Regions from separate parts of the Homo sapiens genome. Here region 2 is linked to region 1. The links come from fine-mapping of genetic effects on gene expression. A gene starts in region 1. The other region holds a variant in brackets. All regions are shown on one strand. Distances are from middle to middle. Region 1 holds the start of BIN1 (bridging integrator 1). Region 2 overlaps BIN1 (bridging integrator 1).

Region 1 (5,464 bases):
CCCTAACACATCTGCTTCCTTTATGCATTGTTCTTTCAAGACATTGATCATGAGCTTTTAATTTATTTTAATTTATTTTTATATGGTTGCAAGTACAATTTCCTATCTTTTCCTTTCCTTCATAATTATGCCCTAAGCATTATTTTCTTGTTGCTACGTAGTCTCGGTAATGGTTGTTTTAAATGATTCCCAATGGCCCCTCCTGTGGCTGTGCTGTCACAGCTGACCCCATCCCTCTAATGAACACTTCCGTTGCTTCCAATTTTTCTGTCAAGCGATATTTAGAAACACCAGAGTCCAGTGAAGCAGAATCTCCCACTGTTCCCTGGGGGCTGACTGTAATGCAATTTGACTTTGCTCATTTCCTCCTTTCCTCAGAGGAGTGTTGGAAGAAATCACTTTTAGAGAATGGTTAGAAAAACGACCAACAGAAAATGAGGAGGAAGGAGATCATGAGCTGAAAGCATGTTGAGCTTTTAGGAGGAAGCTGCTTTAGAAGCCCAGACTGTGTAGGTTTTGCTTTTGTGACTCACAAATCGGGCATGAGTTTATAATAATTTTGACAGATGCTTTTCACTCATGCAGCGCTTGGTGCTTTTGAGGGCATTGGTGCAGGAAGGCTTGATGCAGAATCTCTGCTTATCATTTGCTGTCTGTGTGACCTACATCAGCGGCGCCTCAGTCTGTCTTCCTGCAGAATAAGAATACAGTCAGCCCTCTGCATCTGTGGGTTGGGCATCCATGGATCCAACCAACTGTGGACTGAAAATATTTGGAAAAATACAATAAAAAGTAAGACTACAACAATAAAATAATATAAATAAAAAACAAGGCCGGGCACGGTGGCTCACACCTATAATCCCAGCACTTTGGGAGGCCAAGGCGGGAGGATCACGAGGTCAGGAGATGGAGACCATCTTGGCCAACATGGTGAAACTCCGTCTCTACTAAAAATACAAAAATTAGCTGGGCATGGTGGCACGTGCCTGTAGTCCCAGCTGCTCGGGGGGCTGAGGCAGGAGAATCACTTGAACCCGGGAGGCAGAGGTTGCAGTGAGCCCAGATTGCGCCACTGCACCCCAGACTGGCGACAGAGTGAGACTCTGTCTAAAAATAAATAAATAAATAAATAAAAAATACAGCGTTAACAACTATTTACATAGTATTTAAATTGTATTAGCTATTACAAGAATCTAGAGATAATTTAAAGTATTTTGGAGGATTTGTGTACGCTATATGCAGATACTGTGTCAATTCATATGAGGGACTTGAGCATCCCTGGATTTTGGTATCCACGGATGTGCTGGAACCAGTCCCCTGGGGGATACCGAGGGACATCATGATAATAGGCCCGGAAGAGGACAGACGAACACACTGGGCCATGGGGCAGCACTGAGCGGTGGTGGAAGAACCCCGAGTAGCCGGAGAAAGAGCAGGAGGGCCTTCCAGGGAAGAGGGAATGGCCTGTGTGAACCCAGGCTGAACCTCTCATTCCTGGGACTCGATTTCTCCATTTGTACAAACTGCTTGGTTTGTGGTCTGCAAGAGCCCTTCCTGTTCCTCCAGGAAGCCTCTCAGGGACCTCTGTCCCTGGCCAGCTCTGCTCCTCTGACCGCTGCGGGTCCTGCAGGCCATAGCCCTGGCTCCTGTGTGTGCACCAGACACGTCTAGGCCTCTTCAGCGGGACCTATCTCTCTGCTCAACTCAATCAACAGTTCTTTAGAAATTTCCAGGGGCAGCAAAGTGCTGTAGCCCCTGACATGTTTTAGGGCTGAATGGGGGTGGGTATCAGCAGACTCAATACGTATTTATTAACTTAAAAGAAGTGTCATTGGTCTATTGGCAAAGCTGGTTAGCAATAACCTTATCTTCTCCAGGAATAATGATCACTAATCATTCCTTCCTGCTGGGGGTAGGAGACAACCCGGCGTATGGTGGTGGAGCACCTGGGAGACAGAGGCAGAGATCTCGTTCCTCGATCCCGGCGCGTTGGTTGTAAAGTAGGAACAGTAATAGCACCTACCTCTAGGGCCACGGAGACCGAATGAAATAATGCCTGTCAAGTCACTTAGTACACAGTAAGCACTCAGTAATGCTAGGTTGTTGTTATTATAATAAATTTTTAGCGAACGGGAAGACCAAGCACCGGTTGGTACTGGGCTAGGCGCCGTAGGCAAAGATGTGGAGATGTCCCGGAGGCGCCTAGGGTATCCGGGCGAAAACCCGAGGGCCGAAGGCTGGGAGGAGGCGGAGCGTCGGGCACCGGGCACCGGGCACCGGGCGGGAGGTGAGCCCCTGGAAAAGGAGGGGGCTCCGGGCGCGTTCTCCCAGCAGCCGCGGCTCCTCTGTTCAGGGCCGCGCCCCCTTCGCCGCACTTTCTCTTTGATTTCGAAAGCACTCCTCTCCTCCACCTAGTCTCCTTTCCTGGGTTGCAGGAGATTACTGCTTGCGGGGAAGACCAAGACGCCAGGCCGGCGGATTAGTCCCCGCCCCGGGGCGGTGCAGCTGGAGCGTCAGGGGAGTCCCGCTCGCCGCAGCCCCAGCGCCGCGCGCGCCCCTCCCTCCTCGCGGACCTGGCGGTGCCGGCGCCCGGAGTGGCCCTTTAAAAGGCAGCTTATTGTCCGGAGGGGGCGGGCGGGGGGCGCCGACCGCGGCCTGAGGCCCGGCCCCTCCCCTCTCCCTCCCTCTGTCCCCGCGTCGCTCGCTGGCTAGCTCGCTGGCTCGCTCGCCCGTCCGGCGCACGCTCCGCCTCCGTCAGTTGGCTCCGCTGTCGGGTGCGCGGCGTGGAGCGGCAGCCGGTCTGGACGCGCGGCCGGGGCTGGGGGCTGGGAGCGCGGCGCGCAAGATCTCCCCGCGCGAGAGCGGCCCCTGCCACCGGGCGAGGCCTGCGCCGCGATGGCAGAGATGGGCAGTAAAGGGGTGACGGCGGGAAAGATCGCCAGCAACGTGCAGAAGAAGCTCACCCGCGCGCAGGAGAAGGTGAGCGAGCCGGAGCCCCAGCAGCCGCGGAGTCCCAGCCGCCGCGGAGCCCCGGCCACCTGTCCCCCTATCCTCCGACCCCGGGGCCTGGTCCTTCGCCAGGATCTGGTGCTGTCACCTCTAGAGGAGCGCTTTCGAGGGGCTTCGAGGTCCCCAGGCTGCGTTCCCCGGCGCTCTGGGTGCCCTCTTAGGTTTGCGTCCTCTGTCTCCCCACACCCGGCCGGGGCAGGACAGGGCCCCGCTTTGCACCTTCGTGGCTCGGCTGCACAGCAGTGGCCGGCCCTGCTCCAGGCTCTTCTCAGGCGCGCGCTCCAGGCTACCCCGCTTTGGAGGCCAAGGGCCGGGAGGCTGGGAGGCCAGGTGGTGACCCTCAGCTCTCCAGGCCCATGCAGGCAACCTAGGCTGGGCCGGCGCTCGGGGCGAGAGGGAGTATGTCCCTCTGCCCCTGGGGACACTATTCCCCCGGACTCCCAAGGCTGCTTCTCGAACCGGCACCCACAGTTCCTTCCTTCCCACTGCTTCTCCACTTTCGTTCTCCGTGGGCCGAAGGAGGGATTGGGTTTCCTTTCCCGAGAGGTGCCTGCGGCCTGGAAGCTCCCGCCCAGCCCGGCCCCACCGGGAGCCCAGGGCTACGCACCCCGCAAGGAGGTGCCCTCGCCCCAGCAGGGGCTTAGCGTTTCCGGCGGCCGGGGAGCGGGTGGCGGCACTGGCTTTGGGAGCCCACGGCCGGGTGGGGAGCTGGCCTGGAGGAGGCGCGTGGAAGGCGCCACAGGAAACCCGACCCCTCCTCGCGGAGAGCTGGAATGGGGGATGGAGCCGGGGCCTCCCAGGGTGCCCAGAGCGTGCAGGAAATGCAGAGATTGAGGGGCGGGGGTCTGCACCCGGTCAGTTGTCTATCCCAAGCCACCTCTGGTTTATTGAATTGGATCACGCCAGCTGCTGACGCCACTTCCCCTGACGACTCCAACTCTGAAATCTGAGATTGCAGAATCTGTGTTTCTGCCAGGGTGGCCCCCCAGTGCCCCGCGGCCAGGCCTGCCCCCTCTCCCACCCGCTGCGCGGCCGCCGGGTGGAGGCGCAGGGACAGGCCGGCCTTCCCCTGCCAGGCCTGGTGGCTGTTTATAAACAATGACTTTTGCTTCTGAGACCCGCGGGCTCCCTAAGGATGCAACCACGTGATTGCTGGGGGATGGGGGAGAGGGGGGCGCCTAGAGCTTCCCCATACCTCCCTCAGAGTCCTACTGCTCATCCCTGTGTTTCCTGGCTAAGGAGGTGGGTGGGTGTGCATTGAAGGAAGGGCCCTCAGCCAAGTCCAGGTTTGCCCAGACCCAGCTCCCCAACCCCCCACCCCAGGGAAGGAGGAGGAGGAGGAGGAGGAGGAGGAGGAGGAGGGATTAAAGCCCCAGGAATAGCTGGCTGGGGGCTGGGAAGACTTCAGGTTGTGGGGTGGGGGGGTGGCAGCACAGATGCAGCCACCCCTGCTCCGGGCTGCCATGACTGGGTAATCCATCTGTGTGCCTGGAGCAGGCAGCCCTGGGCCAGAGCCTGCTTCCTTCCCTAAAGGGCCAGGGAGATGAATGGGAAGGGAGGTTAGCTGAGCTGTGTTCCCTGCCCCCTTCCCACTGGTGTCCCACCCCTTCCTGGCTCCCCAAGGCTCTTGGTGTGTCTCCTTTGCCCTGGTTGTCTTTTCTCTGCAGCAGCATCTTTGATGTCATTCTCGGGGCAGTAGGCAAGGGCTGTGTCCCCTCCAAGGAGGTGGTGATGTATCACTGAGCTCCTGAGACACCATCCCTCTCTCTTGAGCCCCTGTTCTGTGGCCACGGGCAGTTGGCTGACAGTTGGTCAGCTAGGCATGCTGGTCTTGGCCAACAGCTGACCTTGCCCATGCCGGGCTTCCTGGGACTGGAGTTGTTTAGTGTTCCAGCTGCTCTCTGCCTGCCGGAGACTAGTTAGGGACCCTCCCCCCATCAGAAACCAAGGCAGCATGACCATCATGACAGGCATCCAGGCCAGGTCTCTGAAAGTAGCCTTCCCCTCCCTTTGGGTTGCAGGCCCTGCTCGCAGGAAGCCCCATGCCTCAACCCACAGCAGCCTCTGCTGTGTGCCTTCCTGTAGAGTCTGTGCCATCATTGGAGGGTCATCCTCAGTGTCTTCTGTTGGTGATCAGTGCCGCCTCTAACTCCCACTGTCAATGAAACTGGAATCCTAGTCTCTTACAGGCAGCCCCACCACTATACCTACCTTGCCTTGGTGAAATCAGTGGGTAATAGGGCAATTCCAGTTTCCCTGTGGCTACAGGAAGGCGTTTCCTGAGCAAGGATGGCAGGAGCTGTGCTGGGAGGCTGGGAGAGTCCTGGCGTCCTGGCGTAGGAAGAAGGGCCCGTATCTTGCATCCACCCTTCACCCCCGGCCTTCCCACATCCACTTCCAGCCCAAACAAACATCCAGACTGTGAGGGTGACAGTGTGGTCAAGGGCAGCCTGCA
Region 2 (5,000 bases), 33 kb after region 1:
GTCCTAAGCTCCATTTTTGGCCTATTGTCGAGCCCTGGGTAGAGGGTGGGGAGGCCTGAAAACCTGATGGACCCAGCCATGCCCTGGGATTGCAGCCCTGGGTGGGCACCCTGGGCTGGGTGATGTTGGCTAGAGACTTCCCAGCCCCTGGTCTGTGCTGTTGGTGACTGAGCACTCTTGGTTTGACCACTCTCCTTTCCAAGGTAACACTCTCCCCTTCTCTCTTGGCTTCGGCAGGTTCTCCAGAAGCTGGGGAAGGCAGATGAGACCAAGGATGAGCAGTTTGAGCAGTGCGTCCAGAATTTCAACAAGCAGCTGGTGAGTGTGGGTGGCCCTTGGCCTTAGGGAGTTTGTGAAAATTCGGCTGCCAGGTGAAAAATGGCACGAGCTGAATTTGTGGAGTACGAGAGCTTGGAGGAGGGTAATCAGTGTGGGCTGACAAGATCATGTAAGACTTCCTAGAGGAGGGAGCACTGGCAATGCATGCTGGGAAGGAAGAGGGATGGGGTATGTATGCTTTAGGTTCTTGGTAGGAGACATAGAAACGGTAGTTGGGGGAGGGGGAGGGGGAGGGTGGGATAGGAGCAGGCAATAGATTGTGGCCAGACTTGGGGAAACTTTGCATGTCAGGGGCAAGTGGGAGCTATAGAAGCTTCTTGCCAGGAGAGTGGCATCTGCAGCGGTTAGCATGGGGGCGGAGCAGGCTGGGTTTGATTTGGGCATCTGCTGAGCATGGTGTGTGCCTGGCTGTGTGGCAGGCTCAAGGCTGGGCTGTGGGGAGGCATCCGCAGCCATCTCCAATTGGCCTGGGAGCATTTGAGAGAGGGCTGAGGGCAGCTGGGAGGGCTGGGGAGCAGCTGGGAGGGCCTGGGAGTAGCTGGGAGAGGACTGGGAGCAGCTGCGAGGGCCGGGAGTAGCTGGGAGAGGGCCGGGAGCATTTGGGAGAGGGCTGGGGAGCAGCTGGGAGAGCTGGGAGCATTCTGGGACAGGACCAGGAGCAACTGGGAGGGCTGGGAGCATTCTGGGAGAGGGCGGTTGGGGGCAGCTGGGAGGGCTGGGAGCATTCTGGGAGAGGGCCAGGGAACAACTGGGAGCATTCTGGGAGAGGGCCGGGGAGCATTCTGGGAGAGGGCGGTGGGGGGGGCAGCTGGGAGGGCCGGGAGCATTCTGGGAGAGGGTGGTGGGGGGCAGCTGGGAGGGCTGGGAGCATTCTGGGAGAGGGCCGGGGAGCATTCTGGGAGAGGGCTGGGAGCAGCTGGGAGGGCTGGGAGCATTCTGGGAGAGGGCTGGGAGCAGAGGGGAGAGGCCCCAGGGCCAAGTTGGCCTTGGCTTGCCAGAGGGGCTCAGCCTGACAGGCTTCCCTGGACAGGGATTGGGGAGCCCCCTTAGCTGATTGTCCTTTAGGCCAGTTATGGGAGGAGTTTCAAGGCCCAGGTAGACCCTGTGGCAGGGATATCTACTGCCTCTGTGGCTCTGGGCAATTCCTTCCCAGAGCTTCTTGGGCCTCAGTTTCCTCACCTGCAGAATAGAGGCTTGAACAAGAAACCTGGTCTTAGGTTCTGATTCCATCTCTGGGAAGCCCCAGGGCATGTCCCTACTCAGCTGGCTTCATCAGGCTGTGGGTTGCTCTGAAGGACCTTTAGGGAGTTGCTGTGGCCATGGGCCAGAGCTGCTGTGTTTGACAGAGATCTATGCAATCCTTGAGATGGGGCTGATATTCTCATTTTGCAGATGAGGCACTTGAGGCTCAGAGAAGTTAAGCACATCTTCCAAGGCTATGTAGCTGGTGTGGGTGTTGGGGATTGAAATCCAGGCTCTGTGGCCTTTGGTTCACTATCGAGTTTCCTCTCTGGAGCTGATCCCTTGTCCTGAGGGCAGCTGGCTAGGCTGGGGAGACAGGTTAGGGGTGGAGGTGGTGGGGGCCCCTTAGAACAGGCTGAGCTGGCCGGGCACTGTAGCTCACGCCTGTAATCCCAGCACTTTGGGGGGCCAAGGCAGGCAGATCATGAGGTCAGGAGTTTGAGACCAGCCTGGCCAATATGGTGAAACCCCGCCTCTACTAAAAATACAAAAATTAGCCAGGCGTGGTGGTGTGTGCCTGTAGTCCTAGCTACTCGGGAGGCTGGGGCAGAAGAATCTCTTGAACCTGGGAGGCAGAGGTTGCGGTGGGCCGAGATCATGCCACTGGACTCCAGCCTGGGCTACAGAGCAAGACTCCGGTCTCAAAACAAACAAACAAACAAAAAACAGGCTGAGCTTTGGCAGAGTGAGGGAAGCACAGTTGGGAGCTGAGACTCTGTGTGGCCTGGCCCCAGGGCTGAAACCACAGTGTTGCTGTCTCCACTGTCCCTCAGAGTCATCCTCTCTGGGTCTCTGACTCTGGGCAAACAGTCACTCACTGCTCCTTGGACAGAGGGGTTGGGCAGAGAGTCCAGGGCTAAAGATAGCCAGTGCTGCGGGCTGCCAGGTGGCTGCTGGGCTGTGGGTGTGGAGCAGTCCTGAGCTGGGCCTCTGTCTGCCCCCGGGCTCAGGTTTGGTGGGGTGGCTGGCTTTTCAGGGGCCAGGGCTGGTAGTTGGGGTGGTGGTTTTAAGGTCTTGTTCAAGGCTGGGGCTAAGGCAGCCAGTTCTGGATTTGATTGGTGTGTGGGGATGGCAGGGTGTGGGGACCAGGAAGGAATGGGGTGAAGGTCACTGTTGTTGGGGGAGTGAATTCAGGAGGCTGCAGTGGGCTTGGGGGCCCTGGGAAAGGAGAGAGAGAATGGGGCGTGGGAAGCCTGGAGGTGGAGCTTTTTCTTGCCTCTGATTCTGTGAGCCCCAAGCCTAGTGGGCCCAGCACTACAAGGGACAAGGATGGCAGGTGATTTAGTCTTTAAAGAAG[T/C]GAACCTCCCACCCCTTCTTATGGGGTGGGGGGCCCTAGGAGAGGGTGTAGATCAGCCTGCTGTCACCTGCTCTCCAAGGACCCAGGTGCACAGCCCCTCCTGGGCCCACCTGGCGCTGGTCACAGTAGCATCGCTGCCTTCTGCCCCTGCTCTGAGAGCCCATGGGGGCCTGCTTGCCCCTCCCCCAGAGTACTGCACACCTGGCACAGGCCCTTCTGGAAGCCATCCTGGGTCTCCAGGGCATCCCAGCTCTTCTTCCTAGGGTCCGTCTGTAGCTTTCCAGGCTGCAGGGCTGTCATTGCTGTTTGTCTGTCACTGAGGTGGGGCAAGTCTGATTCCTTCTTGTCCCCATGGCCCACCCAAGGTTTTGCTCAAAATGGGCATCCCTGACTATTGAGTGAAGGTCGCCCCCCGAATTGATGGCTGAGGGGTGCCAGAGGGGGTCCACGTAGGAGGGCCGTCCCTGCCCCCTAGACCCACTGGGAGCACAGGGACTTGGGTGCTCAGGCCACCTGTGGGGACTGATGTCCAGGGAGGTGCAGCGAGGGCTTGGGGATGCTGGCTGAGCCCAGCCGCGCTGGAGCTGCTCCAGGACCTTCCTGACTCCCCCAAGTCCTGTAGCTGGGACACAGGCTGAGGTGGGCAGTGGCTCCCGAATCTTATCTTCCCCCAGCTGGGCTCTGTGAACTCTGGGACCTCCAGAGAATTCTTTCTCAGATCCCTGTTTAGGGGCTGAGGGAGCCACTTGGAAGCAAACACACACTGCTCTGTACTGGCCTGGACGCTGCCCTGCGGAGGGTAGCTGGCTGGGGCCTCCGTCGGGGGAGGGCTGTGTCTACCCTGGGGACTGATGAGGAGCTTAGGAAGCCAGCTGCAGTGGGCACAGGGAGGCAGTGCTCTGGCCGGCCCCTTGCACATCTGCGTGCCACGTGCCGGCGCACAGCCCAGCGTTGTTTGGGAAACACAAGGAGCCCTGGTACGGCCTGAAGCCCGGGGGAGCACAACGACCCACCCCATGGGGACCCCTGCTGTGGGGGGGAGGTGGGGACGGCGTGAGAGGTGTGGCTGGGATGGTGGAGGCCTGGCAGGGAGAGAAGCTGGATCTGGAAGATTCTGTGACATCAGAGGACACGATAGCATCCCATCATGAACACACTTTAATCCTCGTCTCGACCAACAAAGCCTTTAATTGTGAAGACTTAGGGTGGCTGTGTCAGGAGTGAGGTGGACCCTTCCTCATTCCCCGGCCCCGCGGGGTCTCCATCCGACCCCCTGATGGAATTCCAGGGAGGTCTCAGTGTCCGTGGAGCAGTCTTCTGTTTCTTCACTCAGTCTCACATCGGTGGGCCTTGGACTTGGATGTTTGTAAAGATGATGATTAGCCAGTGTTATACACCCTACTCTATGGGGGATTAAAGGAATTTTAGAGATTTTTTTTTTTTTCACACATGCTCTCTTTAAATTATACATCTTATGTGCTGCTCTGAAGCTCCCCCTGTGGATGTCTCTACTGTCACACGGAAGCATTCATCATAATAGGCAGATCTGTGGGTTCTCAGGGCCGCATCACTACCCATTACCCACAAAACACCCTGCGGGCTGCGTGCCCAGGCTTGGAGGGTCTCATGGGCTCTCCGAGTCTCTGTGTGACTGGGCCGGTCGCTGACCCTCTGTCCGCTTCTTTGCTGTCAGGTGGGACAGTGGTGTTGAGAAGACTGCCTGGAAGGTGCTGGCCCCTAGGGCACCAGGGCAGGAAGAGCAGCCCCGGCTAAGGACAGGGAGAGGCCTGTAGTGGGGAGACAGAAGAGGGTTTCAGGGTGCTGGGGGTGAGCCTGTGGATGTGGCCGGGTCCCTGCTGGCCTTCACCTGGAGGTGGACCTGAATGGATGGGGCCCACCTTCCGGCTCTTGCGCAAGCATGAAGCTGGCCAGACTGGAGCGCTGCAGGCATGCTGGGTCTCCTGGGACCATGGCCAGCTGCCCCTCCTTCAGGGCAGGAGGCGACTGGAACATGGGTGTCCCTGAGGCTTGGGCTGGCAGCAGGCAGGGGAGGCCAGGAGGGTGCCCTTCTACTACGAAGGTCAGCCTCAGCCACTGCCGCTCTCCCGAGTCCCCTCTCTGC

Evidence for each region.
Region 2: its variant is fine-mapped to the expression of BIN1 in Th2 cells (Schmiedel 2018, PIP 0.95).

What each region holds. Positions count from the first base shown.
Region 1 is chr2:127,104,375-127,109,838 of GRCh38, reverse strand. BIN1 (bridging integrator 1) reads left to right here and starts at 2,685. Exons shown (of 19, transcript NM_139343.3): 1 at 2,685-2,979. The coding sequence starts at 2,896. It overlaps LOC105373605 (a long non-coding RNA gene), which reads right to left and starts at 2,694. Exons shown (of 4, transcript XR_923311.4): 1 at 2,024-2,694. RefSeq lists silencers at 2,558-2,617, 2,452-2,746, 2,628-2,837.
Region 2 is chr2:127,071,944-127,076,943 of GRCh38, reverse strand. It overlaps BIN1 (bridging integrator 1), which reads left to right. Exons shown (of 19, transcript NM_139343.3): 2 at 238-318. Among named protein-coding and RNA genes, the nearest start is that of BIN1, 33 kb to the left of the region's middle. The variant T/C (reference allele first, on the strand shown) is at 2,879.